Linked DNA regions of Homo sapiens: regions 1 and 2 are each linked to region 3. The links come from fine-mapping of genetic effects on gene expression. A gene starts in region 3. Each other region holds a variant in brackets. All regions are shown on one strand. Distances are between the middles of the regions.

Region 1 (10,125 bases), 39 kb before region 3:
CTGGGCATGTTGCATAATGCATCACAGTGCAAGCCAAACGTTTTCAGTGCTGACAACGAGCTCCTTGATAACAATGAAGAGTGAGGTAATTTGTTAAATTTTTTTGGAAGTCCCCTATAACAGTCTTCTCAAGACTGAATGAATCAACACTTTCCAGCTCAGACCGCAACTGAGCTGTGTGTCTGTGTGTGCGCATGATGATAAGAAATCTAGAAGGAAACTGGGAAAACCACATCTCATGCCCTGTTTAAGAACTAGAAAAAGTGTCAGAAGAATTAAAATTAAGCCTCACGAGAGTCTGTGGGTATGGAAAGTCACCAGCTAGCTAATATTAACATAGCTTGCAACAGAACACTGTTGCTAGAAATAGGACAGTCGCATCACTACCACTAAGCAATTTGCATTCTGTGGACCAGCCCCTGAATTCCTATTGCCCTTTGGGCATTGCATTTCTGGACGCTTCTAGACAGTGTTCATACTTGGCTGTCTGGTTTCACCAGGAACTCTACCCAAAAGAGGAAACAGCAAGGAGAACATTTGCTTTGTTTGTAGGAGGGAAGTTGTCGAGCTACAAACAAATCTTTAGGCATCTGAGGAATTGCTAAGTTTCTAATTTCATATGGTTGCTGACAAGGAGGTGCAGACAAGGACCCTCTTGCTTTCCTCACTATGGATAGTCTGTTGCCTCCATCTAGATTCTCTTATTTCAAAAAATATCCTCTCCATGCAATTAGGAGATATTTATCGACGCTGAGAAACCAAAGAGCCGAAGAACAGGTATCATTTTGTTTATATTATCTTTAAAATGAACGGGTGCTTGTTCCTTGTTGCTTTTACGTCGCTTAGTGATTTCATTTGTGCTGGTTTACATGTTTATAGGTACAGGTCAGATCCTGCTTGTGGCTGTTCAGACTTGGCAATCAGAAAGCAAGCAGGCTTGTGAGAATTTATTTAAACTTGGAACATTCAGATCCTGAGATTAAGCGGAGTTCTGTAATGAAGCCACATGCTTTCTTTCTTCTAAAGAGCTACTCTATCAAAGTTAAATTTTGAATTCTTTGATCATTTTCCAATGCCTCAGATACAAAATTTGACACTATTAATATCTCAACAAAGAAAGTATCAGACCCTAGAAGTACACTTGTCTTCTTGTATTTATGGTTATGTTTACATAGCCAGAATTTGCAAAACAAAAAACATTTTATAAACTATAATAACCTTAAACAGATCATTAACAAGCTATAAAGATCATTCAGAAGCAGTTGGTCATTTTTGTGTGTGTAAAAGGTAGGAGGTAGAGCACTGCCATATTCAGTCTTTTTAGCCAATCAAAAGCTATGATTTCCAGCAGGAGACACTATCACTTGGGAATATAAGCATTTTTAAAACTGTTAAAATGTCTGATCACATCTCATTTAAAATCATGCAGTCATTTTTATGGTGTGAGATTTATATCATTCCATTTCTTTGATCTCCAAAAAAGACATTTCTAAAAATGATTTTTATGAATTTTACCAAATTGTTAGAAGAAGTAGCAATATCTGATCCATTTAAATCTAGTGATTCATTTAGGAAGAAGTGTGGCGGTGGTATACAAATGTGAAGGACAAATGTATAGCCATACCAAAGACCCAGCAGTCATAAATTGCTTGTGCATTGTGCTTGTAACTAGAACTGCAAAACTATGCAGGAGATATCACCAGTGTCCTGTATTTTTTTCTCCTTTGTGATATGAGATGACCCACTTAATAAAACACTTCCAGGAAATGCAAGATAGGTTTAGCAGACAGAAAATCCTCTCATGACAGGTTTCCCAAAAAGGCAATGCATAATTTGGAAAATAAAAATCATTGCTACTGTTTGAGAGGAAACTGCTTGTATGCCCTGCTTTAATAATTTTACAAGGGCCAGAAATTCAAACAGACTCTGTTCACTAAGGGAGCTAGGCTGGTCCAGTTTATCTTACTTAGGCAAGGTGTCACCATTAAAAGACCAACTTTTGGTTTCCAAGTTTCAGCCTGCACTTGCTTTTGATGTAGAAAGCTAGAGAACCAAGTGGTAGGGCTGTATAAGTTTTTGTTTGCCAATCTTTTAATGTTCACGGGCTTCTTCAGGCCTCATTTATTATGGAAGGAAGAGAGGTGGCTGAAAGGATGGGAACACAACTGTGGAATGTGAATTGAGTGATTTTTTTTTTCTCAGTATTGTAAGTTTTCAGAGATGTGGCTATATTGCTTGTGTAGTTCTATGGTTCTTTGTTTTTAGTTTATTGAAGAAGTATTACAAAATGCATTCAGAAGACCATTAGAATTTAACATAAAACCTCTGACTTGGACAGGGTGGGTAGTCCCTTCCCCAGTGTACAACCATTTGGGACAACCTAGGAACAGCTGGGAGTGAGTATTATGCTGAGTTCTTAAATTCTTATATAAGTGAATTGAATAATTAAGAGAAATAATATATTTGATTTCTTTTTAAAGCCAACTACAGCTCTGCAGACCTAATGTCTCACAGAATTAGAGAAATTAGGTCAGAGTTCATCATAACTAACCTTGAAAGCTTGTTGGGAAGTTATAAAGGAGGTTAATAATGTCTACAATCTTATGACCTGCATATTTGTTGCCTCTAATCCTTACATTCTTGTATAACTAATCCTTGATATAAAAGTGAAGGGATTGAGACTTAGAGCCCTTAAGAGCCCTTGCCCATGCAGCTAGAAAGTACCAGAGGAAGATGTGAATTTCTATCTCATGGCTTTAAATTTTATTCATTTTACCACGCTTGATCCCTGAACAATCTAGTAATAGCAAAATATCACCCTGCTAACTTTTCTCCTTGAGAGATTTCTAAAATTTCCTATATTCACATAGCACTGTCATAATTTTTACTGTTTACCACATCTGTATGATTAATTCCTCAATATTTTTCTGTATTTGTACTTAAATCACATTATTAGAGTTTATTTAGAAAAAAAGTTCATATCATGACTGTAAATGGAAAACCATTGTCATTAGCCGTAAGTAAAAATAATTAATAAAAGCAAAACAGTATTAAATTCTAGGTAGATACTATTGCCTGTAAAACCTCCAAGCCTGAAACCTGCTCATTTGTTAATAAGGAAGATTAGCTTTTAAGAGAAAGGTTAGAGCATCCTAGGAGCCAACTGAGAAAGTTTCCTGGGTGAGGATGGAAAGGAATTAAAAGGTAGATAATGTTTTTCAATCCAAAATGATTCAGTGTTATTGAATGTAGTGTCTGCATGCCACTTAAAATCTTCTCCCACCTCACTTAGCGCTGCTAAGTACCAACCATGTTGACTTCCACATACTTGGGGAATATTATAACAGAACACCATCTGCTTCTTTACTTTTGCACATTTAAATGAACTCCCCCCTCTAGCCTAGAATTCTCTCCTTTACTTACAACTTGCCCTCCTGGAGGTCTCCTGTACATCCTTCAATACTTGGATTAAATGGGCTCAGTGAAAAGCTTTCTCCAGTGCTGCTGGGAAGAATGAAGTCTTCCTTTTCCAAGATATTTTGTTTGCTTCAGACACAGCCCTTACTACATTCTATGTAGTAAATCATGTGATTTCATGTCGATATTCGTGCACCCATGCACACATGACACTGGATGTTATCTTGTTCTTTGTTCCCTGAGGCATACTGGAGCCTGGCAGATACTGGTGTAAAGGTGACCCACACAACAGGCAGAGGGTACACACTGGATTGACTGTGACACAGACCTCCTTTGTTGTTTTTACTAGGCCTAGAAGTTCCCCATACCCCTTTTCTGTGGTCCAAATTATGATCATTGTTACACTCACCTTGTTCACATATGCTTTATTGTTTAAAACTTCTCCTAGTGCTCTTCTCGCACTTGGTGTCATACAGACAAGAAGATTTGACATGAGGGTTGATTTGTTTGGTAGCTTTTTCTGGTGGTGGTAGTGTTATTCCTGTGATACAGCCATCAATAGGTTGGTAGGTTATTTATCAAATTGAGAACAAATATTTCATCCTTTGCTTCCCTAGATTCTCTTGCAGCAAGTGTTTCACAAAGCCAAATCCCCACATATGTAGAAGATTAACAGCATTAATGAGATGAAGATGCTGAAGGTTGGGAAAATTTGTTAACCTTTCTCTCAGAATTATTCAAATGGTGTGGTAGTAACAGTGGTGGTGGTGAACGTTGGGCAGCCTGAGCCTAAATGGAGTCTCAGATGAGTTTGAGTAGGTGTGCTGAACGCACGCATAAGGGTGTTTGGTTTCGGTTATTTTATTTTGGTCTGAGGGCAACATCCAGCACCTGGCTCAGATGTTGGTGTCTAGTTTATAAGGAATGAGTGAGACTTGCAGGCAATGTTCCCCTAAGTACTAGAGACTCAGCAGCCTGATCTGTGGCTCAGGTGATCAAGCGGGACACTGAGTGTGGAAGGGAGAATTTGCTCCACTTCTGGGCTGACTATAGTCTAGCTTTAGCCTGGAGATGCCTGCCAAGAACCAAATACCTCATGAACCCCTGGGGAGTACTGCTCTTAGGGGCCAGCACCCCTGGGCTACATATGGGTGCTAGCACCAAACAATGAGAAGACAGTTTGTCAGCTCATGTGGGACAGTCTACTCTCTCTCCTTGGGTGAGTTCTTCTATTCCCATGGTTTCAAACACCTATTTGCTGAAAACTCCCAAATGTTTATACCCAGAGCACTTCAGCCTTGCATCCAATCATCTACTTGATATCTCCATCTGAATGTCTTGTGAATGTTGCAGACTGAATGTGTCCAAAGAGAA[T/C]TCCACAAGCTCCAAACATGCTCCTCCCCAGGTTTTTCCATCAATCAACACAAAAGCTCAAACCAGAAACCTGGGAGTCACCTTGGCACCTCTCTTTTTCCCTTTCTCCCCCTTACGTCCCCTTCCTAATCCTTTAGTAAGACTTCTAAAATAGTTATTGAATTCTCCATCTTCACCCTTCTAATCCTGCCAACCATCTTTTCTTACTTGAACTATTGCAATAGTTTTCCAATTCGTGTCTCCATGTTCACTCTGGTTATCCTACAATCTGTGTCTCCTGTAGCAGTCAGAATTTTCTGCTTTAAATGAAAATCTTATTTTAGCTCAATGCGGGGAATATGATATTATTTTGTTTGCTAGTTTAGTCCCAGTGCTAAGCATAAATCTGGCACATAGATGATAAATTAATGTAATTGAATGGAAAAAGGGGACTTTGTAAGTATTAGAGAAGCCGTGGGGTTGGAGGGTTCACGGGGCTGAGGTGTTTTTATGCAGGTGAGGGTAAGAGATGGTGAAAATAGGGTTATTATCCTTAGTAAGCAGAGGCTGTTGAGATCTAGGGGAAATCATGTAGAGGAATTTATTTTACAGACGTGAAACTAGTGTCACAAACTAAGAGATTTGCCCAAGCTCGCATGGCTCATCTGTGTCAGTGCTGGGATTAGAATTTGGTTCGCTTGACTCTCATTCTGTTATGTATAGTGAACCCCTAAGCAGAGATGTAGAAAAAGGCCATATGAGAAAAAAACTCTACAGGATGGGTCCAGAGAATAGGTGATGCCTGAGGGTCAACTTGTCAACTTGTCAATAACAAATAAGACGTTTTGATGAGAGACTGAGGCAGAGCAGAGCCTGCTCTTTTTTGCCTTGTCCCTCAACTTACACTGCCCTTCAGCAGCCTCGCCAGTCTGAATCCCCACTTCTATGTGTCCCTGCAGGAGGAAAGCCGAGAAGGAGTCAGAAAACACAGGCCAGCTAATTTAATCTACAAGAATTTGGGATGACCTGTACCAATGTCTCGCTCTCTTGAACAGAGATTTTTTTTTTCCTGATTGAGAAATACCATTCAAGGGCTGATCTGACAAGTCTTGCCTGTTTAACAGTGAATCTGCTTAAAATGAGGAGAGTGGTCTTTGGGCCCAGGGGGCATGTACTGTAGCTACATTTTAATTACAGAGTAGAATCAAATTTTGTTTTGGAAGCTGTTCTAAAGTTTCCTTTCAATGGCTTAAGAAAATGTTTCTAGTTGGAACGGGATCACTGGAATTTTTTTTCTTTGCTGCTCTGTTTCTTAATGAATGCTAACCTCAAAGTTGCACTGTTAAATAAATATTTGAATTTAATTTGAATTTTAGAAACTTATTTCTGCATTTTGGCTCTCATACTTACTCTGAATGATACTATAAAAATTAAGAACTCCCCATTCCAAAGAAAACTATATTGAGATTTCCAAGGCTAAATAAGGATTTGAGGTTGCTGATGTAGGCTCTGATTCTCTAGGTAAAATGATAGACGTTTCACTACAACTTGATTTAAGAAATGTTTTTAGCTCCATAAAGTCAGTAAGTTGGTTATATCTTGAGTGTATACCAAAGCTATTCATTGTAAAAAGTCTTTTTGAAAAGTCATGAAATGCTATCCATTGTCAGTTCAAATGATATTTGAGGGGAAACTAAAAGTGCTTCTCCATGTCCCCTTAGCCCCATGCTTATGATCTTTCATTGGCTTCCATTTGCTTTTTGGATACAGACAAAGCTCCCTAATGTGGAGGGGTTTGTGTGGTCCAGCTCTGATTCTCTCCCTGCTGCATGTTGACCTTGCCCCCTGTGCTTGTGCTTGAGTAGAAAAAATTTCAGTCCTTCACAAACAGGAGGAAAAGATTTTCCTTGTAGAACTTAATAAATGTTATCTCATTTATACCTAGTGTTCCATTATTGGAACAATAAGCATGTGGGAGTTATTTACATCCTACTGCTCAAGGCCATCGCCAAGGTCTGATTGCAAAAATTCAAAAAATTGTAACTTTGGGCACAAATGGGTTAAGATAGAGGACAGAGAGTCTATGCCACTCCTGTGGAGGAATTTGTATAATTATATATAGGTAACATTGACAGTTAAATTGTGACAACATGAAGTTGAACTTTAATATTTCTGATTATTAAATGTGACATTAAAAGTGGAACTATTTTATTATGGTAATGACAACCTTTTCCTCTATCTGAAGGGAGAAATTTTTTAAATGAGCTATGTATTTACCAAAAAATAAAAAGCTACCAATGGTTTTTCACATTATCTACAAGATGCCTGAGAGTTATCATTGATAGCTTGCATAAAGATAAATGGCTTTCTAGTTGTCAGCAACCACCCTCATGGTCTTTCTCTCTCCCAAATATGTCTTCACTATCTAAGAAAATATCACCATCCTGATATTTAGGCAGAGGCCTAGGTTCATCTTTGGTGCTTTCTGCTCCCTTAGTCAATATTTAATCTATCACCAACTCCATTCAATTCTACCCCTAAAAAACTCCCAAACCGGTTGGTCTACTTCCCTCTTTCACCACCCTAGCCCAAAGACCGTCATTACTTCTTGCCTGAAATACTGTAATACCTTCCTCATTGGTCTCCCAGTAATCCACACTACAGTCAGAGAGGTCTTCTGAACACTACCACCTAGCCCCATGCTTATGATCTTTCACTGGCTTCCATTTGCTTTTTGGATACAGACAAAGCTCCCTAATGTGGAGGGGTTTGTATGGTCCAGCTCTGATTCTCTCCCTGCTGCATGTTGACCTTGCCCCTCTGTGTTAGTTAGGGTTCTCTAAAGGGACAGAACTAGAGGATATTTGCATATATGATGGGGAGTTTATTAGGAGAATTGACTCACATGAGTCACACGATCACAAGGTGAAATCCCACAATAGGCCGTTTGCAAGCTGAGGATCAAGGAAGTCAGTCTGAGTCTCAAAACCTCAAAAGTAGGGAAGCTGACTGTGCAGCCTTCAGTCTGTAGCCAAAGGCCTGAGAGCCCCTGGTAAATCACTGGTGTTAAGTCCAAGAGTCCAAAAGCTGAAGAACTTGGAGTCCGATGTTCCAGTGCAGGAAGCATCCAGCATGGGAGAAAGATGAAGGCCGGAAGACTCAGCCAGTTTCCTCATGCCACTTTCTTCTGCCTGCTTTATTCTAGCTGTGCTGGCAGCTGATTAGATGGCGCCCACCCAGATTGAGGGTGGGTCTGCCTCTCCCTGTCCACTGACTCAAATGTTAATCCCCTTTGGCAATACCCTCATAGACACATCCAGGAACAATACTTTGCATCCTTCAATCCAATCAAGTTGACACTCAATATTAACCATCACACCCCCTGTTCTCTGAACCCTAGCTATAGCACACTTCTTCTATGTATGCAAGTTTCCCTGCTACTTCCTGGCTAGGGCATCTGTTCCAATAATCATCTTTCTATCCTCCCTCAGTTAGTATCTACTCTTCCTTCAGATTTTAATTCAATATTAACTCCTTTAGAGCAGCCTTTTCTGACTTTTCCACCTTGCTTCATTACATCCTTTGAAGGCACTTGGTAACTGTCCTTTGCTGTATTTATCCTAGTAGCAATTTCGCATCTTTCTGTGGGGGCTATTTGATTCCCGATGTATCCCAGGTGACTAGCAAAGTGCCTGACAGATGGAAGGCACTGAATACAAGTTTGTGGAATTAGTGAATGTGGGGAGTAGGGGTGCAATGAATTCTATCTTGAGACTGAAGTACTTGAAATAATCCTGGATGTTAGACTTTGTGAGGAAGATACATGACTGCTTTTGTATATGTGTTTGTGTATGTGTTTTGTAAGAATCTTAGGGCTGTAGTACCAGAATGGCTGAGTGATTAAGGTATTGGACTTAAGAATCATAGGGCTAATTCATGAAGAAAGATAGGTATGCATTTGGGAGGTTCCGGAGGAAATAACCATGACCAATGGGTAGAATTGCAGGGAGGGATTATGATATACTAATAAAGATGAACTTTCTAAAAATGAAAGGTAAAGAAATGAATTATCTTCTGCAGAGTGCGGGGGTATGTGACCCCTCCTTAGGGGATGTTGTGGCAATGGTTTCTGCATCATAAAAGAGAAGACTGAATGACTTATTAGGTTCCAGCTCTGATATTCTAGTATAATAGGCAATAGAGAGATGAACAATTCAGATATTTTAGAAATAAGGAGAGGGCAGAGGGCATAGATGTGTAGTTAGGATTCCCGTTTTATTTGGTTAGTGGTAAATACTCCATAGTCTTAGCATGTTGCTCTAGAGTCTAAGACCAAAGAAGACAGAATCAAATGCCTTTGGTGATTAGAGTAGCATGTAATTCTCCGTCAAGGTAAAAAACAAAAGTTACATCTAGCAAAGACCTCAAGTGAAGAGCTATGTACCTGTGACTAGCTTTTCTAAGCCTAATCGACCACTTAACTACTTCTAATCCATAGTTTGTAAGTTATCTAACCCCTTCCAGTATAACGATAAATAGCTAAATATACATAGCAGTCATTGATAAATGGGGGTGCCAAGAAATTTCAGGTTATTTTGTGGCACTTTAACCACTGTTGTTTTTTCTTCTTCTTCAATCAAGCCTCTTTTACCTTCAGATTTTCTTCAATGCAGTCAGTGCTGGCAACTTGCCGTTTATTATGGTCCCTTCTGAAGGTGTTCCATCCTTCTTGTCCACAGCATCACAGCAGTGAAGTGTCAGACAAGCCTAAGAGACACCTGGACCCTGGGTTGATTTCTGAGCTATTTTTAATCCCTTCATTTACTTTAAAATTTTTCTAACCTACTGTGCTCTGGTGCCTTTGAAACATGGGAGTCAGTAAATGGATGAATATCAAAACTGTTGCTTTGTCTTTGAAATAAGCACATTATTAGAATAAGAAATTGAATTAGAAATCACAACAAATTACAAATTCGAATGACAAATATCACAAGCATCAAAAAAATCTAGAAAATAAGTGTTTTTACCAATTAAAAGTTAACAGATCCATCCTAAAATATTTTGTTCCTACATTGTGGGGGCCACAGGGTCTTTAATCACCTCCTCATAAAGTGATGGTTTTTAAATACTCTGTGAAGAGATAGTAGAAAGATAATTTGGATACTGCCCTAATACAGTTAATGTATGATTATTTTTCATTAAAACAAACATAAAGTGCAAAACCCTTTTCTGTGACAGTGTAGCTTTTTTAAAGATTCCTAAATTTGCTATCCCATTCCATGTTTTAGACAGTTCATCTACACTTCGTTAGCTTTTGTTCAGAATGAAAGATGACATATTTTTGCACCTTGTACA
Region 2 (10,125 bases), 330 kb after region 3:
ATAAATGTCTTCTTTTGAGAAGAGTCTGTTCATATCCTTTGCCCACTTTTTGATAGGGTTGCTGGAGAGGATGTGGAGAAATAGGAATGCTTTTACACTGTTGGTGGGAGTGTAAATTAGTTCAACCATTGTGGAAGACAGTGTGGTGATTCCTCAAGGATCTAGAACCAGAAATACCATTTGACCCAGCAATCCCATTACTGGGTATATACCCAAAGGATTATAAATCATTCTACTGTAAAGACACATGCACATGTATGTTTATTGCAGCACTATTCACAATAGCAAAGACCTGGAAACAACCCAAATGCCCAAAAATGATAGACTGGATAAAGAAAATGTGGCACATATATAACATGGAATACTATGCAGCCATAAAAAAGGATGAGTTCACATCCTTTGCAGGGACATGGATGAAGCTAGAAACCATCATTCTCAGCAAACTAACACAAGAACAGAAAACCAAACACTGCATGTTCTCACTCATAAGTGGGAGTTGAACAATGAGAACACATGGACACAGGGAGGGGAACATCACACACTGGGGTCTGTCAGGGGGTGGGGGACTAGGGGAGGGACAGCATTAGGAGAAATACCTAATGTGGATGATGGGTTGATGGGTGCAGCAAACCTGGGTGTAGCAAACCATCAGGACGCGTGTGTATCCATGGAACAAACCTGCATGTTCTGCACATGTATCCCCAAACTTAAAGTATACAAAAAAAAAAAAGAGGAATAAGAGATTAGGACACAGGGACACCAGGGTATGCATGCACAGAGGATGACCTTGTGAAGAAGCAGCAAGAGGGAAGCCAAGGAGAAAGGCCTCAGAGGAATCCAACCCTGCTGGCCCCTTAATCTCCAACCTCCAGAACTCTGGGAAATAAATTTCTATTGTTTAAATCACCCAATCTGTGGTATCTTCTCATTACAGCTCTGGCTGACTTAATACAGCAGCCAACATGCACAGCAGCTAGCAGACGAGGGTGTGCCAATTATACTTTGGAGTGTGTCTGGGAAGAGAATTTGTGTGGGGCATTGATAGTAGCCACTACACCCACTTACAAATGAGAACACCGTGACCCAGAGAAGTGAAGTAGCCCACCTGAGGTCACACAGCCAATAAGCAACGGAGGCAGAATTTGATTGCCATCTGACCCTACAGGTGGTCCTCCTAGTCACTACTTTGTATCATCACTTCTGTTGCAAGGCAGTTTTTCTCAGAAGCAGCAGATGTCACCAGTTAACTTTGACTTCAATTTCTTTTTGGTTTTTTGTTTGTTTTGTTTTGTTTTGTTTTCATCTAAATTGTGCTTACCTTATACAAAATGGAGCTTCTGGGGGAAATTGAGGCAACTCAGCACAATGCCTATGTCTGTGTGTCTTCTCAAAGTATTGACTTTTACCTTATGTAAAAGGTAAAAAAAAATCTTATGGTTTTGGGGACGTTGTAGCATATTAATCATAGGTTTCCTATACATATGAGAAAATAATATTTTTATTTTTAATGTTTTTATTAAAAATGAATTTGAGCAGTTTTTCACACCCACAAATGTTATTTTTGGGAAATTAAGAAATGCTTTGATGGCTGTCATGTTAATACAAATAATAACTGTAATCATTCTAAGCACTGCCACTCCCAATTTGTAATGAATGAACATGGTCTTCATAGAGGCCACATTGAGATACAAGAATAAATCAGTTTGTTCTTATTAGAGCCTTATAATAGCCTTGTTCAGTATTTTCTGGCTTGGTGTAATAAAGCCATTACCCTCTTCAGAAAACTAGAAAAGAAAGGACAAATAGAGATGGACATCTTTTGGTAGCTGCCTTCTGCTGAGGGCTCCCACCACCCACCCTCTGTCTGCCCCATGACAGCCAGCTCCGCAAACTTTAATGCTGAACTATGATTAGATATGCAGAGAGAGGCAGGGTGTCCGGGGCAGACTCTAGGGCACCTGGAGAAAGCTCCAGCCTAACAGCATTTGCTGTCACACTCTGGGTCCTCTTGACTGAGTTCTGGGACTTGACTGAGTGGGCCTGCAGGATGTAACTGGAAGTTTTAGTACGATGAAGACATTTTTTGCAGTTCGAAGGTATGACTACATCTGAGATATAAGTTCAAAGTATGTGAAAAAGAGGAAAGGGGTGGGGGAGTCTTAGGAAAAACATCTGTATCTCCTTCCTCTCCTCAGCTTCCCCTCTCCACGTTACTCTCCCAAAGGATTAGTTAATTCTTTGTATATGATATTATGTGGCAATTTGAAAGTCCTTATCTCTTAGAGATTTATGTACTCATTTATTCAGCAAGAAGTTTTGGGTGTCTGCTTTGAATCATGTGTTGGGGATACCATGGTAAGCAGGATGGGTGTGGCCTCTGCCCTCCTGGAGCTTACCATCTACCTGGAATATTAGAAGGGATTTTTATTTCAGCAGACATAAAGTGCCAGTCATTGTGCTGAATTAGTGGTTCTCAAACTTAAGGGTGCATCAGGATCACCTGGAGAGCTTGTCAAACCACACATTGCTGGACCTTCATCCCAGTTTCTGATTCAGTAGGTTGGAGGTATAGGCAAATTTGGAAATTTTTATTTTTAATAAGAGCCCAGGTGATGTTGTTCTTGCTATTCTGGGGACCACCCTTTAAGAACCATTCTGGGAAGCCTGTCACATGGATTTGCTTAAGGCATTCTAATGGTTAAAACCATCTGGGATGGTGGTGGGCCCACAGGCTGAGATCTTCTAAATGTCTAAAAGGAACTAAGTTCCTTTAGAGGAAACTTGGTTTTCTCTTCAGGCAAAGTTCCTGTTTTATGAAAACACTCTTTTTTAAAAAAATTGTTAATGTATATCTGGATCGTTTTAGCAGTTTAAAGAGCTAATGCAGTAGATGAAGTGACAGGGAGTTTTTCATTTAACAGTTGCATCTGTATGTCATTTTCTCCTCGAAGGTTCTATAAGATAGAGCAATAGTTCTCAAAGTGTGTTTCCAGACGAGTGGCATAGTTAGAAATGCAGAATCTCAAGCCCCATTCCAGACCTACTGAATCAGAAACACTGGGTGTGGGAGCAAGAATCTGTTTTAACAAGGCTTCCAGCTGATTCTGAGGCACACTCAAGTTTGACACATCTGAGATAGATGGTAGTGAGAACTAGGCTCAGGCTGAATCTGATTCTCCCAGCTCCCTTAAGACGGTTTACCAGGATGACTAAGCTTCAGTTTTTCTATCTCGTAAGTCAAAAGTCTATCCCTTGTTGTCTAATATCTTTCAGAGCTACAAGAAAGATAATCATGACCTTTCTGAAATGGTTTTACTAGCAAAGATGAAAATTTCTAACTAACCATAAATAGACTTATTCAGTGAAAGAAAGGGGATTCAGATGCAGCAGTGTGACCTTCGGTTGGTCATTAGCTTGTCTGAACCTTACTTTTCCTATCTGAAAAGTGGGCAGAAAAATGTCATTCTAGTCTACATTGAAGAGTTGTTGCAAAGATCAAATGGTATCTTTGTGCTATTAAATGGTATCAAATTTTTGTGGTATCAAATGTATATCAGCATGCTTTTTAAACTGTAAAATGCACACAAATATAAAGATTATAACTTTGGGCTGCTCACCCTTAGCTTTGTTCTTTTCTATCAACAAAATGGGAGTAGTTGAATTACTTATACCTCTATGGAGATTTTAAGTAATTTAGACAACTAATAGCACAGTAACTCGAGCTCTTCTAAGGTAAAGTTTTTCTTACGTTTATGTTTTGTCTTTAACATACAAAGGTTGAAATATGTAGAAATAGTATAAAATCTTTTAGATTTTATTATAGTGTATACTCTTATTTGAACTAGTCACATTCTAGAGCAGTGATTCTGAGAGGGCAGCCTCCAAACCAGCAGCATCAGCATCAGCTGGGAACTTGTGAGTAATGCAGATTCTCAGGTACCACACCAGACCTGCTGAATCAGCAAGTCTTGGGGTGGGACCCAGAGATCCGTTTTAACAAGCCCACAGGTGATCCTGATGCTCACACAAGTCTTAGAGAAAGGCATTTATTTGGGTCTTAATTGAAGGATCTGATAAAGGCCATCATTTTCCTGGAACAGGGTGATGTCTTCGTTTTTCCAGCATGGATTTGAAACATCTGTGTCCAAACTCGTGCAGCCATTATTGGATTCCTTCATAAACACATTCTGTTACTGCTTGCCTGGCATACAGAAGATCTGGAATGCCACTCCAGTATACCCATTATGAGGCTGACTTCAGGGTGCAAGGAAATTAAAGCTGTTTATCAGACTCTTTTCCCCTTAGTGACAGGAGAAAGGAATCTTAAGCTAAGAAGGCTTCAAGTTGGGTCTATGTATGAAAAACATGAGGCGTGACAAACACAGTTTGAACGGACTTACGTTTTTTTTGACTTTTCCCTTTGAAAATGAAAATGAGTCCTTTTGTGGGCAGCACCAAATTAGTGGTGCTTACTTAAGAAATACTGGAGACAGATTCATTCCAGTTTGTTTCATAACTTAGGTGGCAGAATGGCACTTTTCCCTGGCCACTTCTTTCCTTCTTCCCCTTCTAGGAGGAAATCTTAGGTAGGAGAGGGAAAGGGACTAAGGCTGTCTGTACACAATGAGCTACGTTTTGGGAAGAGGAGCTTAGTGTTTTAACAAAAGAAAGGTTTGTCTGTGTTGTAGAGATATGACTTGGTCCACTGCCTATGTTTGTAAATAAAGTTTTATTGGGACATAGCCACACTCATTTATTTATGTATTGTCTGTTTTCACACTACAAAGGCAGAGTTGGGTAGTTGTGACAGAGACCACGTAATCTGCAAAGCCTAAAATTGTTTTACTATCTAGCCCTTTACAGAACATATTTGTCAACCCCCCTTGCAGAGGTTTCTTCTGAGCTGCTTGAAGGAAACCTTGACGGAATCAGTGGACAGGAAGGACAGTGGGAGGTGAACAGTGTGGTGAAATGCCTG[C/T]GGGTTCCTGTGGAGTCCACAGAAAGGAAACCACAGAGAGGCGAGATTCCATATTGCCCATTTCAGTTGGGTTCAGTATGGATTTTGAGAAATTATTCTATTTAAAATAAATAAATATTTTAAACTTGAGTATATATTTGCAATTGTCTAATACAGTCATACACTGCATAACAATCTTTTGGTCAATGACAGACTGCATGTACAATGGTGGTCCAGTTAATGAAGCTGAAAAATTCCCAACACCTAGTGCTATCATAGCCATCATAACATTGCAGAGCAACATAGCCACTCACATACTTGTGGTGATGCTGGGTAAATAAACCTACTACACTGCCAGTCATATAAAAGTGTAATGCATATATTTATGTACAGTATAGTGATGACAAATGACTGTTACTGCTTTATGTATTTACTATACTTTTTTTTTTTGAGGTGTGGTCTCACTCTGTTACCCAGTCTGGAGTGCAGTGGCACGATCTCGGCTCACTGCATCCTCCACCTTCCAGGCTCAAGTGATCCTCCCACTTCAGCCTCCCAGTTAGCCGGGACCACAGGTGTGCGCCACCACACCCAGCTAATTTTTTGTATTTTTGGTAAAGATTGGGTTTCTCCATGTTGCCCAGGCTGTTCTCGAACTCCTGACCTCTGGTGATCTGCCTGCCTCGGCCTGCCAAAGTGCTGGGATTATAGGAGTGAGCCACCATGCCTGGCTTGCTATACTTTTTATCATTTTTCTAAAGTGTACTCCTTCTACTTATTAAAAAAAATTAACTGTAAAACAGCCTTGGGCAGGTCCTTCGGGAGGTATTTCAGAAGAAGGCACTGTTATCACAGTAGATGGAGGCTCCGTGTGTGTTACTGCCCCTAGAGACCTTGTAGTGGGACAAGATGTGGAGGTGGAAGACAGTGGTATCAGTGATCCTGACGCTGTGTAGCAGTAGACTAATGTGTATGTTTGTGTCTTCATTTTTAACAAAATAGTTGAAAAAGAAAAAGAAAGAAAAAATGCTTATTGACTATCTCCTAGTTAGGAGAGATATGAAAAAAAGAAAATATTTTCGTACAGCTGTACAATGTGTTTGTGTTTTAAGCTAAGTGTTATTACAATAGAGTCAAGAAGTTTAAAAAATGTACAGTAAGCTGCTTAATTTATTATTGAAGAAGGGAAAACATTTTTTATAAATGTAGTGTAGCCTAAGTGTCCAGTGTTTATAAGTCTGTAGTAGCGTACAGTAATGTTCTAGGCCTTCGCATTCACTCACCACTCACTCACTGACTCACCCAGAGCAACTTCCAGTCCTGCGTGCTCCATTCATGGTAACAGCCCTGTACAGATGTGCCATTTAAAAAATCTTTTATACTGTATTTTTACTGTACATTTTTAATGTTAAGATACACAAGTACTTACCACTGTATTACAATTGTCTACAGTATTCAGTGTAGTAACATGCTGTACAGGGTTGTAGCCTAGGAGCAATAGGCTATACCACATAAACATAGATGTGTAGTAGGTTATACCATCGAGGTTTGTAATAAGTACACTCTATGATGTTCACACAATGATGAAATCACCTGAATGACATATTCCTCAGAACATATCCTCGTTGTTAAGTGATGCATGACTTATTTCTTCCTGGTGTTGGGTATTACAGGAAAAACTACTGAGTGTTTGCCTTATTTGATACATACTTTGCATCCATTATACTATGTAATGTTCACAACAATTCCATGAGATGAATATTATCATCTTTATTTTATAGATGAGAAAACTGAAGTGCAGAAAGCTTAAATAACACAGTGTTACAGAGCTATTGCTAGAGGCTTGATTTAAATGCAGATTTTGTTTTTATGCCAAAGCCAGCATTCTAAAGGAGTGTTTCTGAATGTTGGCCTCTCTAGCTAGGTTGGGGTGTTTTTCAAACTGCAGGTTGAGAGGTCAGTTTAGTGAGTTGCAACCAGCATTAAAAAAATAATTGAACAGGATGAAAAACACCAGAGTGTGTCATATGTAGTTTGGGTAAATAGGTCTTGGTGTATGAAACTTTTGTTTCGACTATAAAGATATTTATAAACATACATATATAAGCACATTTCTGTGCACTGGGCAACAATGTAAATGATATTTCTTACCATGTCGTAGTTTGAAAGCCAAGGGAGTGGACAAGGAGGAATGAAGATAAAGAAAAAATGGGAGAGCAAGAGGGAAAAATATGAATGAGTGAGAGAATGAATAACTGTCAAAGGGACAAAGAGACTCGAGAGGGAGAGGAAGTAGAAAAGAGTGGGGAAAGAGGGAGAATGGACAACTCAGAGAAAGAGACACAGAGATTCAGGGAGAGTTGAGGGTGGGCAAGAGAAGGAAGACATCATATGGTTCTGTCTTTCATTCCACTCAGCAAGCACATGTCCCTACTTGATGGCAGAACTGGAGATCTCTCAGGAGATTTTAGTTTTCATACACTTCTCATGCTGTGATTCTCTTGTCGTTCTCAGTGTAAGTAAAATGAAGATCTTTATTAACATGGCTTCTAGTCATTACAGCAAAAAGACACCTGCACGTTTATGTTTATCACAACACAATTCACAATTGCAAGGATATGGAACCAACATAACTGCCCATCACTGATGAGTGGATAAAGAAAATGTGGCATATATACACCATGCAATACTACTCAGCCATTAAAAAAAGAATGAAATACTGTCTTTTGCAGCAACCTGGATGGAGCTGGAGGCCATTATTCTAAGTGAAGTAACTCAGGAATGGAAAACCAAATACCATATGTTCTCACTTATAAGTGGGAGCTAAGCTATGGGTACACAGAGGCATGCAGAGTGGGATAATGGACTTTGGAGACTCAGAAGGGAGGAGGGTGGGAGGGAGGTAAGGGATAAAAGACTACATATTGGGTACAGTGTATACTACTCGGTGAGGGTGCACTAAAATCTCAGACTTCACCACTACAAAAGTCACCCATGTAACCAAAAACCACTTGTATGCAAAAGGTATTGAAGTTCTATATGCATGTACATATGTGTATAGGTATGTTATATATATATGTGTACATACAGACACGTGCAGGTGTCTTCTTGATATAATGACTAGAAGCCACGTTTAATAAAAATAATATATATTATTTCAATATAAATAATAAAAATAATAAAAACTATGGCTTCTCCATAACAGTATTCTATCTCATCTGTTGCTCAGCTGAAAATCAGTGATCTGAACTGATGTGAAAAAAAAAAATACGCTGTGTTGAAATTGCTGAGAGAAGGTATGAGATCCCTAGTACACTGCTTTCTAAGGAACTGGCAAAGGCAATTTTGAATATATGTAATTTTTGTCTTTTGAGCTGACTAATTTTTATTCTACTGTACAGCAGCCTTTTATGTTTTAGTGGGAAACCATAGATAACAAACACATTTTAACATCTTCTATTTCCAGGGAATTCTACATCCATTAAGTATCTTACTTTCAAAGGATTCTGGACTCATTTAATGAAAAGCCCATTTGTACAGACTTGGAAATTGAGTGAACATTTGTATGAAACTTCCCTGCATACCGATGCTTTCATGAGAATTCTATTACTCAATCTCAGCAGCCACTCTACTAGATTACACTTATGTTAATTTTATCACAGAAATTGGAGCTCTGTGAGTTTAAGTCTCTTGCACAAATTTTCATCTAAAAAGTGGAAGAGCTAGATTCTAGCCTTGATTTTCTGACCCCAAATTTCATATTTTTCCCACTAGACCAGAAATAGCAACAATAGATTGAAAAATAATGTGTTACAATTTGGAAGAAAAATTTTAATTTTAAGTCTGAGTATGGTGCAAAGTCTAAAATGCCCATTGTTTTGCTGCAGCTGAGTATTCTAATTTTCTCCTCCCCCAGCCCAAGGGTAGTTGTTTGGGTAGTTCTTTATTTCTAGCCCCCCATTAGTAAATTATATTGTTATGCTTTCTTGTGATCCATTCATGGCCTTTCTTCACTGAAGATTGTTATAAACACCAACTTTATTCTAGTTACTAACAATGTTGCATCAAGTAACTTGGGTAGATGCTTATTGTCATCAGCTTAGGTGGGTATTCTTTTTTAAAATAAGTGCTGAATGTAAGGTTGAGTAAGTAGGACCCACCAGAGTGAACTCCATCTCAAAAGCCATCATTACCTGTTAGAAAAGAATTGTGTTTTTCCCAGCTTGCCAAAATGATGCTGCTATATATCCTATTCATCTTGTTTGGTCCTACCAGTAACATTTAAAAAAAAAGAAATATCTAGGAAAAATGCTGTGGTAGTTTTGCTCCAACTTCCTATGCTAAAAACTTTATGTGTGTTGTGTAATAGGACCCTTCAGCCAGGACATCTTGTCCTACCTTTGCCCCTAAATTTCCTCATTTTTAATAAGGATTCATGCCTCCAAATGTCAAAATGTTAAAGCATATTATTTATTCTTATTTAATGATTTTTTTCTTACCTTCAAACGGTAGTTGCTAATGGAAATGTTCCTCCTTTCCTCTACTGGTTTTATTTTGCTGAGTGTTTATTACATTCAACCAAATACTTCCAGGAAGCTGAGATTCAGCTCTACACTCCATGGAAGCTTTGTCAACGCAAGCAAAATATACATCCCTGTGAAAAGATACAGTATTCTTACCTCATTATAATTTTAATAACTGGTAGTATCTGACTGTTTGTTCATTATTTCAGAGATCCCAGAAGACCCACTTGTGGCTGAAGAGTACTACGCTGATGCATTTGATTCCTATTGTGAAGAGAGTGATGAGGAGGAAGAAGAAATAGCGTTAGAAAGACCAGAGAAAGAAATCAGGAATGAGGGATCCCAGCCTGCTTACAGAACAAACCAACAGGTATGTAATGCTCCCTGTCGGAAGCCATGGAACTGTTCAAGGTACTGATTGGACTCTCCCAGAGAAGAAAGGAAGTCTTATAAGGTGAAGTTGGGGACATGGGGAACAGGGTTATTATAATAGCTACTTGTGGTAAGTCTGGCTTTTCAAGGTCCAGAGGCAGGCAGGGCCCTATGGAATTTGGAGAATCTGATCTGGACCATGTTGATGGGGGAAGAACTGGAGCATGCTGCACTTATTTGGGGGGTTGGGAGATGGCACACACCATATTCCCA
Region 3 (10,125 bases):
TTGCAGGGTACACATGTACACACACTCACTCACACTGGGACAATTTAGACACGCCAATTAACCTAACATGCACAACTTTGGGATATGAGAGGAAACCAGAATACCTGGAGAAAACCCATGTAGACACAGGGAGAATGTGCAAACTCAATACAGTGGCCCTACCAGTAATTGATGTTTTTTTCTCATCATTTAATGAAATGATGTTGAACAAAATGACCTTATTCGAGGACCTAGTGTACAATGCTTTTTGTCAGGCATTAATATTCATGCCATCAAAATCAAAAGCACAGGCTCAGCTAAAATTTCTCAAATGCATGGAAACAAGCACCTCAACACTGTTATCTTTTAATTTCAAATGGTTACCTGGGCTCAAAATCTGGGTGTGCAATTTTATCTGCTCTGGGCAGTGCTCAATATCGAGCATTTCTTACAACAATTAGGACTTATTCCCATTCAGATAATGTTGTCCTAGTTAACCCCTTTGTGGTTTTTGGAGATGTAGGTTTATTCTTTAAACTTTTTTTTTTTTTTTTTTTTTTTTTGAGACAGTTTCTTGCTCTGTCCCCCAGGCTGGAGTGCAGTGGCATGATTACAGCTCACTGCAGCTTTGACCTCCTGGGCTTAAGCAATCTTCCCACCCCAGCTGCCTGAGTATCAGGGACCACAGGTGTGTGCCACTGCACCCAGCTAATGCTTTTATTTTCTGTAAAGACAGGATCTCACTATGTGGTCAAGCCTGGTCTTGAACTCCTGGGCTCACACAATTTTCCTGCCTCAGCCTCCCAAAATGTTGGGATTACAGGTGTGAGATGCACCAGAAACCCTTAAACTTCTTAAAAATCCCTTAAGTCCTCTTGGTTTTACAGGAAAGTAGGAGCTTGGATTTTAGTTTGATCATAGGAAACAAGTAGATTGTTATTCATTCAACAAAAAATATTTATGATAAACATTTTTCAGGCTATCCATTTATTTAATAGGTCTTTATTACATATTTACTGCTGTCAAATGTTTTGGGGCCAGAGGTGAATTATGCTAGTTTGGAAACTAGGTGGAATATTATCATTTAAATGGATACCTTTGTATCTCAAAACAAATCCTGTAGTTTATATAATTTGGAATATTGTATGTCTGTTTTCCATGGAAATGATGAAGTTCATTGGTCATGGTACTCTTGGGTCATGGGACTCACACTCACTTTGCTCTTACCTCTTTCTTATTTTCACATGCATCCCATCGACACTCATGTCTAATCCAGAAGACTGGTAGTATATAAGATCCCAAATATTACCACTGGCTCAGAATCTGAGCCAATGAATGGAGAGACTATGTCATACTTGAAATAAACTTCTTTAACAATAAAAATTAAGAGTATAAGTTCTCTCATTTCATCTCAGTTTCATCAAATATTTCATGTTTAAAATGCTAGCAAGTGTGAAAGAGGCTATGGAATTTTGTGAGTGATAAAATATTTGTAGAGTACTTGGGGATCTGGATCTGGGTGCTATTAAAACCAACCAAACACAAGTAGCTCATATGAGTCCTTCAATTTTTATTCTTGCTTCCAACTTTTAATCTTCCAGCACTGCCAAAACATGGAACTAGGCAGATTTATAGCAATTCTGGTAGATGTTTGTTAGGAACTGATTTCGTACAACACTCTTGGCAATAAAACTATAGTTTTCTAAACTTGACATTTAGCATGTCCTTTATCTTATAAGAAGAAAAATACTTCTGTTGTTCTGTTGGAGTAGGTTAGCTTATAAAAATAAAGTGATGCATCTTTATATGTTTTTAACGTGTCCAACTTTGCCAGGCATGGTGGTTCATGCCTCTAATCCCAAGCACATTGGTAGGCCGAGGCAAGAGGATCTCTTGAGCCTAGGAGTTCAAGACTGCAGTGTGCTATGATGGCATCATTGCACTCCAGCCTCAGCGACAGAGACTCTGTCTCTTAAGTTAGTAAGTAAATAAATAAAATGTTCAACTTAAAATAAAATTACAATTTCTTTTCTAGCAGCTAGGTGAAATTTCTTAACTATTAACCTCTGGTACTTTAAACAACATTAAAACAGCCTTTAAAAGAAGACATTAATTAATTGAGGAAAGATTTTAAAATAATTTTTTCCAAGTTTTAATTTTTAAATCCCTAAAGAACCACATATTCTTGTACCATCCAGGTTTATAAAAATGCAGCTATCAAATTTGATATTAAAAACAAGATACCGCACACCCTTTGTGGAATAAAGCACAGTATAAAGAAAATTAGAATGTCATGACCATTCTTCTTCAATCTTTCCCATTTGTAATATTTCCCCCAAGCGGAAAAGCCTGACAAATTTCCCTTTCTTGCACGTGACCACTTTTTGCATCAGATGCATTTAATTTTGTAGGTTAAATATTCAGGACAAAAGGAGAGTAGAAAGAATTTTTAGAGCTTTGATTTCTATGGAAGCAATAAGCTGAAACTTGGAAATAATATGTTTCATTGCCATCAATCCCATTGTAGCTAGCTAACACTCCAGGGATTTCCTTGATTCTCTCTATAATAATCTTATACTTCTATAGTGCTTATAATTTGCAACCTGTGTTCACTTACTTTATGAGATTCTTACAAAAATCTTTTGAAAGAAGGCTAGTGTGTATGTATATGTGGGTGTATGAATATACATATATATGTGTATATGTTTGTCTATACATATACATATGTGTGTGTATGACATATATATGTATATAGTCATCCCTCATTGTCCACAGGGGATCGGTTCCAGAACCCCCTCAGACACCAAAATTTCCAGATGCTTAAGTTTTTTATATAAAATGACTAATTGGTCAATTCTTCTTGGTAAAGTTGATCTTGATCTTACCAGTTTCTTTTTTGGCTTAGTAATAGGAACAATGATTTTCATAATTTAGGGGACCAAAAGTAAAATTTCAGTTTAAGTCATTTTAGGAATAAACCATGGAGCTATAAATCTTTTGGAGGAGTTATAGATTCAGTGTTAATGCTAGAGTATTGCAGTATATTAATACAACAGATAGTTCTGAAAAGTTGCTTTAGAAAAATGTTTCAGCTAAAGTGACCCAATACCAAATTCTGTACAGTTACCCTCTATTTTGTAAATGCATATGTTAATATCAAAGTATTTATATTGTGTAATTTCCTACCTTAGGTGCTTTTGTTTTTAATATAATGCTGTTTCAAGGTCGAATATGTACAGTAATAACTGTTACAAATTGATTACGAGAGATCACAATCATTGTACAAATCACAGGCTATGTCATTGTGTAGACAAAAATCACTGACCATGCATGCCAGAGGTGGATCATAAATAGTAACTCCTAAGACTAGAAATCTACTTGATATTTTTATGGGTTCATCTTTAAAAGTGACCTCGCTGAATAAAAGTTCAATATTTCTTAAAAGAAAGGTAAATCTAAAAACCGTCCAGAATTTTCGATCCTAGTCTAGTACCACTTACTTGGGAACAAATATAGAAGCACAGGCAACCCCGTCCGTTAATTTGGCTCCGTCATTGTGCAGACAAAAATCACTGACCATGCATGCCAGAGGTGGATCATAGTTAACTCGTTAAGACTAGAAATCTACTTGATAGTGATTTTTATGGGTTCATCTTTAAAAGTGACCTCGCTGAATAAAAGTTCAATATTTCTTAAAAGAAAGGTAAATCTAGAAAGCTGTCCAGAATTTTCAATCCTAGTCTAGTACCACTTACTTGGGAACAAATATAGAAACACAGGCAACCCCGTCCGTTAATTCTGATGTTGAACGTGTGGTTAGAGAGCACACTGCGATATGTTACAGGACCTGAGATAAAAAGCAAATTTGTAAAGTGTCTAAGTGTTGATGGAGAAAAACACATCTAGCATATACGGAAATTTTCTTTTGAGTTCTCTGTAGGATGATCACCAACTCAGTAGGTGAAGCCCTGCCCTCTAGTGGTTATGGGTGTGAGAGGACTTCTGTTCAACATTATATGTCTGGCTCACCACGGTTTATTAAAACCAATCGTTCATTAAAAAGCACTTATTAGGGGTCTGGGTAAGATGCCGAGCAAGTGAAATGTTTACGTGTGAAAAGGCATTGACACTGGACAAAGGTACAGCTGCTAAAAGAAGTGCTCGTTCATTGGCTTCGACAGCTGTACGACTGGTTTCTAATTGCTGTTCCAGCCTCTCCCCAGTTCCATATACCACAAACGAATGAAAAAGATTAGCTCTCCCTGGAGCTCTCTGAGGCTGAACCTTGCTCTCTCATTACACATGGTAACTAAGCACACCCCTTAAAGAATTTTGGGAAGTCGCCCCGCGATTACCGGCTCCCCCAAGAACCAAGCAGTCAGTGCAGGGTTTTGCAAGTGAGAGTGCGAGACTCGGGAGGCTGCTCACGGTGCTCCAGTCCCTGGCAGGAGCATGGACACCTCGCCCCTTCCTTCCGTGGGCCTCAACGTTGCCTGCTGAGATTGTGACTGCCACCCCGACGGGAGCAGCTTCCCCTACAGACTTTGTAGAGAGCGCTTAAACGCCTCGGGGACAGCGGCCATGACTCTCAGCTTGGGCCGACCCCGCGGCCGCCCCACGGGAATGCGTGGCCGACACGGGGCGTGGGCGAATCTCCGACCCTCGCGTTCAGGGGGTGCATATAAACGGGCGGACACCGTCCCTGGGGTAAGGGAGGCGCCAGCAAGAACAAGGCGGGCCACCAACCCCGAGCGACCTCCTACCGGACGGATCCAAACCCAAACATTGTCCATTCCGGGCCGAAGTCTCGGCCTTCACTTCACTTCCGCCTTCCCAGCCCGTGAACACGAATGCGCCTGCGCGCACCTCTCTCAGCGGAAGTAATAGTGACAAAGCTGGGTTCGCGGCTGGCCCAGGAGTGCGGGGCGCGACTGGGCGGCCGGCGGCGGGGAGGGGCGGAGCGCAGGAGTCGGAGGCGGGAGCAGACCAGCACGGCCTCGCGGAGCCGGCCCGGCGGACCGTGACGGGTCCCCTCACCTCCTCTTCTCTCCCCTCCCCGCCCGCCCTCTCTCCCTCCCTTCCTCCCTCCCGCTCGCTTCTTCTCACGCCGGGAGCAGGCTCCCGCCTCGCACCGCTGCCCCGCGAGCAGCTCCTCTTCTCCCGAGGCGCGCGGGGCGCCCCCGCGAGCCCCGCGGCTGAGACCCCGCAGCCTGGAGGAGGGCTGTCCGGGGCTTTGGGTGGGTACCAGTATTACCTCCTGCCCCCATTTCTAGAAACTTCCAGGTTCTGAAGGAAGGGGAGGTTCGGGTATCCCCTGGATGGGGGGGCATCTCTAGGGCGCCGCCCCGCTGGCGTGAGCTGGGGACGTTGCGGGCACACGACGGGGCGGGTGCGGGATCTTGGGGAGGGGGGCTCCCGAGATAGTGGCTGGGCGGGGAACTCCTTCCTCAGCCTCTCGTCAGCGCCGCTTCTCCTGGTTTCTCTTGCAGATGCTGCTGCTAGGGGTGGTGGGAGCAGCCGTGGGACGCGTGGCCGGGAGCGGGGGTGACAGCCTGGGATTCCGGGGGCTTCTCTTCCTTGTCCTCCTCCTCTCCTCTCTATTCCCAGTGTGGCCGTGGCTGACACTAAAGACTTTGTAGCCATCAACCCGAGTGCAGTTTCGATGGAAAATGAAGGTAAAGGCCCCTGGCCGACCGGTTGCAACGCGGAGTTGAGGGTGTGGTGGTTTGCTTTTAAGTTGTCTTTGTTTTTCCACCTTTTTATTTTCGTGAGCTTATTTATTTACTGTGTATGTGAAGTGTCCAAGGATTTGCTTACTTAGGGTATCCAGCTTTTATTTTGGTAACATGGGGCATTTGAGAGATTGAGGTTCTGTGGGTGACTGAGCTTGATTCAGCTTTCTTGAGGAATTCCTGCTCTCTTCAGCTTAGGGAATGAGAGGGAAGTTTTCATTTCAGATAGCGTCTGTGCATGTTTAAATAGCTATTTGAAAGGAATTACTCGAGGGGAAGTGGAAATGGGGGACAAGGGGATGGGGCTGCATCTCTGTATATTGGCGTTTCAAGCCTCGATGTGGTGTGTGGCAGGATTCATTTATAAGAAAGCAAGCCATGTTTTATTATGTCTAGCATTGGGGAAAAAACTCATTATTTTTCAATTCACAAAAAAAACCCAGTGAATTTAATGAAATGTTATGAGATGAGTGCTTTTCTTAAAGTTCCACCCTATTTCAAAACATCATTTAGGAGGCTGACAGCGGAACCTGTTTGTTCACTGTACACTTTGGACACATTAGATCGTCATTCACATGTTACATGATCCCTTTGGCCTCGTTAAAATATTTAATGCTTTTCCTACACAGCACTGATTATTTTTAAAATTGTTGAACAACTGTGAATAAGTGATTTTTTTTCCCCCTCCTGAAACAACACTTATTCTTTGGACTGACTTCTGACTTGTGCGTGATCATTTTTTTTTCTTCTGCCTTTAACCGGGCTGCAAAATACTATAAAAGATACTTAACAAATGACAGTTTTTTCCTCTGGTATAATTTGTTTTAAAAAATATGTGTCTGGTATAAAGGAGCTGCAGTCTTGCTGGCTGCTTCTAATTTGTTTTTCCATTGTTGAGAATGTAAGCTTGATTGTCTGACTAGGACTAGTAATTTTGAAATGGGTGTTTCTTATAGATGCAGTAATGTGTTTTGCTCTCTGAGACCTCTGGGCTATGTAGGGAATATGATGAGAGGCATGATTATATTGACAAATTTTACTCTGGATGGATAATTGGCGGAAGACATTTTCTGAAATACTAAAGTGTATAACTGCAGAGGAGTTATACTGTCTAATTGGGTCTTGAGAAACATTTGAAAGCAGTGATGTTTTTGGTGATAAGGAAAGTCACTTTTCTGAGCCTTTTTCCTCTCTTTTAAGTTTATTGATTTAAGAAAGGCAAATCCATTCTGCACATGAGACAAAGAATGTTAAATGCATTCATATACTTGTTTCTTGGTAGAAACATCTTAAATAACTTCTAACATTTAATGTATGTTTATGAGCTTGTTTTCAGAATGGTACCAGATTTAAGAGGGTAGCCTAAAGTAGGTGGATTCTTTCATGTTGCTTTTGTTTCTTGATCTCTCAGGAGGAAGAGCATGAGTAATAAAGCCGATTCTCATTATCTACTGAGGTGGGAGGGGGTGGTTGTGAGATAGGAGAATGGTGCCTACTTGTGTCTGTCTCTGTATTTTGTGGCCAAATATGAATTTTGTGGTTTCATAGTAAAAGATTATACAGTTCTTAAAAACGTGTGGGGTTTTCTGTCCCGTTATTCTTGACCATCAAGAGACCATTTTTGTCAGTTTCTCCCTATCGTCACATTTTTTTTTATATATAAACAGTTTGAAGAAGAGCCTGTATATAGCCTAGAAATTTTCAAAAGTGACTGACCATATTAAACTACATAGATTGATACCTGTGCCTTTTTATTGTTCACTTGCCTTTTTGTAGTTTTCATCCTTCTTTGATATAGTGTAGTATTAACAATTTGGAGGTGTGAAACAAAAATGGATTCAAGTCTTGACTAACTTGTCTTGAACCACTTAAAGCTGTGTGATTTTAAGTAAATTACGTCACCTTTCTGAGCCTGTATTTCTTCATCTATAAATTGGGATTGATAATCTTTAACTCACAGAATTGAGAGGATTAAATGAGAAACCCTGTATAAATTCTCTTGTGAGGTAGGAATGATAACGTTTAAGAGCTTGAGTTGTGGTGGAACCATGCAGACTGATTTGAATGCTGGATTCGTCGCTTACCATTTGGCTTTGTGCATATTAAAGTTTTCTGTGCTTCCGTTTCTTCATAAAATAAAGATAATGATAGAACCTACCTTATGAGGTTGTTGTAAACATTCAAACAGTATCTGGCACATAGTAAGTGCTCGGTAAATGTTAATTATAAATTGCCTAGCTGAATGTTTGATACATACTAATAGGCCACCTGGCATTAATATTGTCATGACAGTTAAATGTTGGAAGGGGGAACAGTAGTAGCCAAATGCTCAAAATGAAGTTGTCATTGTTAGTTGAGGGATAAGTGGAGTTAGGTAAGGAATTTTCTATGGCATTAGTGCTTTTAAGCCTACAGAAAAAGTTAGGGCTCTACCAAGAAGCCAGGGTCCAGTACAGAAAGAGACAGGTTTGGATTTGAAGCCCGACAAGTAATGTTTTCCTCTCCTGAAAAATCTGACAAGTTACTAGGCTTCTAAGCTTTCTCAGCCTCTAAGTTATCTCATCTGTAAATGAGATAATGCCCTCTTGCAAAGTTGATGTGAGTAATAAATGAAGCCGCCAGAGCAATGTTTGACATACAGTTAACTTGGATGAATTGAGTGATGCTGCTGTTCCCTAGTAAGAGTATCCTCCAGTAGGTATGCAGGTAGTTACATTTGTGGGTGTGAACAGTGTAGAATTGATAGTGTTTCCCTAGAGCATCAGCATGAAGGTTTCTTAGGTAGCTTACAGTGGTGTGGGGAGGAAATGGTTTCATCCATGTGTTGGTTCCTTCAGCAATGGTGGTATTTTCTTTGGCACTTCGGTTTAGATTCTTCTGGACTTTTTTCCTAGGGCCCATTTAAACTTTCTCAGCAAAGCTTGACCAATTTTTAGCTGTAGACTCCAGGATGTTTCATGAACACTTTCTGCTTGTCACTAGGAACGTTTAAAATGTTAATTTCCTGGAATTTTTGGACTACTTAACATTCAGTCGTGAGTTAGGATTTTATCCAGATCCTTTGGAATTTGTTTTTACATGTTTATCACAAATCTAAACAGATCCCGCTTAGGCATCTTGAGATGCACAAGTAAACAGCTCTTACCTGATTTTTAAAAGTTAATTGCATGTTTAAAGTGATAGCTTACTAGAAAAGATATGTCTAGCTGGAGAAGCTTGCACATAGGTTTTCCTTTCTAGTAATGGATTTATTTTTTGGAATAAATTTGGCCTTTCCCATAGAAAATTCAGTGTGACTTTAATACACATGAAACTTTAATATAGCCTTAAATGTTTGACTAGTGGATAGAAATGTAATAGTCTTCAGGATTTCAGGACATGGTTAATTTAAGATTATAGACAGAGCTAATAGGTGTAGAGAACAATGCCCCAATCTTTTTTGTTTGAAAATGGTTGTATTTACACTTTACTTTTAAAAGCAGTTTCTTAATTCAATTTCAAATTGTTAATCAGCTAGGAATGTCTCAAGAAAAAATTGCATTACTATAGTTGGAGAAGCTATAGGGAAAAAGGGATGAGAAGCCACCTTAATTTTATTCCTTTAACTGAAAATAGGAAACCAGGTTATAAAAATATATCTTTGGGTGTGGGAAATATAGTTTATGTTGTTTGCAGTTTTGTCCATAAAATGATAGTCTTAATTAGTACTCTGAAAAAGAGTTGAAACTAAAAGAGATTATATATATGACATTTTGTAAACTGTAGTAATTTAAGCCAGAGGATGCTGTAGAGAGTACTTGTATGCAATAACCTTCTGACAGTTGGATTCCAAATACTTGATTTGTCTTCATATTTTTGTCATTCATTTAAAGTCAGCAGAATTCAGGTCTGTTAACGCAAAGCATTATGAAACAAAATAGTTTCCTAGGGAACACACCCCTAGGGGCCCAGGACTGATTTTGGAGATCTTAGTTAGCCATGATCTGTTTTGCAAGGTTAAATTTTGTTTTAAAGGTGCCAGGAACACTGTGGCTTGATGGTAAAGTTAGCATGAATTTTAAATTACACCGTTGTTACATGTAGCATCTTAAAATATCTTAAGGATCAGTTCAAGAGGTCCCCTCACATTTACTTTGTTGAAACAAATTCTTTTTAATAATGGTTTCAGGCATCAGTTGTGACAAGGTTATCTTTATGCTTTTCATGTAGACAAATGTTGGTAAAAGGCAGTAAAGGGTGCATCCTGAGGTTAATGCCATCATTTCATGAAAGAAAGGATCTCTCAAAAAAAAGGCTAAATTGATAATTTCCTCTTGGATGTATATGACTGCTACTTATATGCATTTGTTAATACAGTTGACCCTTGAACAATGTGGGGGTTGGGGTGCTGACCCACCATGCAGTTGAAAATCTG

Evidence for each region. PIP is the estimated chance that this variant, and not a neighbour inherited with it, causes the effect. A credible set is the group of variants that fine-mapping cannot tell apart.
Region 1: its variant is the best candidate, but not a certain one, in a credible set for the expression of ATP2C1 in whole blood (INTERVAL, PIP 0.58).
Region 2: its variant is the best candidate, but not a certain one, in a credible set for the expression of ATP2C1 in lung (TOPMed, PIP 0.63).

Annotation. Positions count from the first base shown.
Region 1 is chr3:130,850,152-130,860,276 of GRCh38, forward strand. The region is part of intron 1 of LOC107986023 (a long non-coding RNA gene); the gene reads right to left. It also overlaps a transcript of ATP2C1 not described here. Among named protein-coding and RNA genes, the nearest start is that of ATP2C1, 39 kb to the right of the region's middle. RefSeq lists an enhancer at 31-110. The variant T/C (reference allele first, on the strand shown) is at 4,792.
Region 2 is chr3:131,218,839-131,228,963 of GRCh38, forward strand. It overlaps NEK11 (NIMA related kinase 11), which reads left to right. Exons shown (of 18, transcript NM_024800.5): 15 at 9,690-9,850. Among named protein-coding and RNA genes, the nearest start is that of NUDT16-DT, 160 kb to the right of the region's middle. The variant C/T (reference allele first, on the strand shown) is at 4,979.
Region 3 is chr3:130,889,122-130,899,246 of GRCh38, forward strand. ATP2C1 (ATPase secretory pathway Ca2+ transporting 1) reads left to right here and starts at 4,963. Exons shown (of 28, transcript NM_001378687.1): 1 at 4,963-5,216; 2 at 5,469-5,654. The coding sequence starts at 5,649. It overlaps LOC107986023 (a long non-coding RNA gene), which reads right to left and starts at 4,800. Exons shown (of 3, transcript XR_001740492.2): 1 at 3,735-4,800. RefSeq lists an enhancer at 4,518-4,737 and a silencer at 4,828-5,217.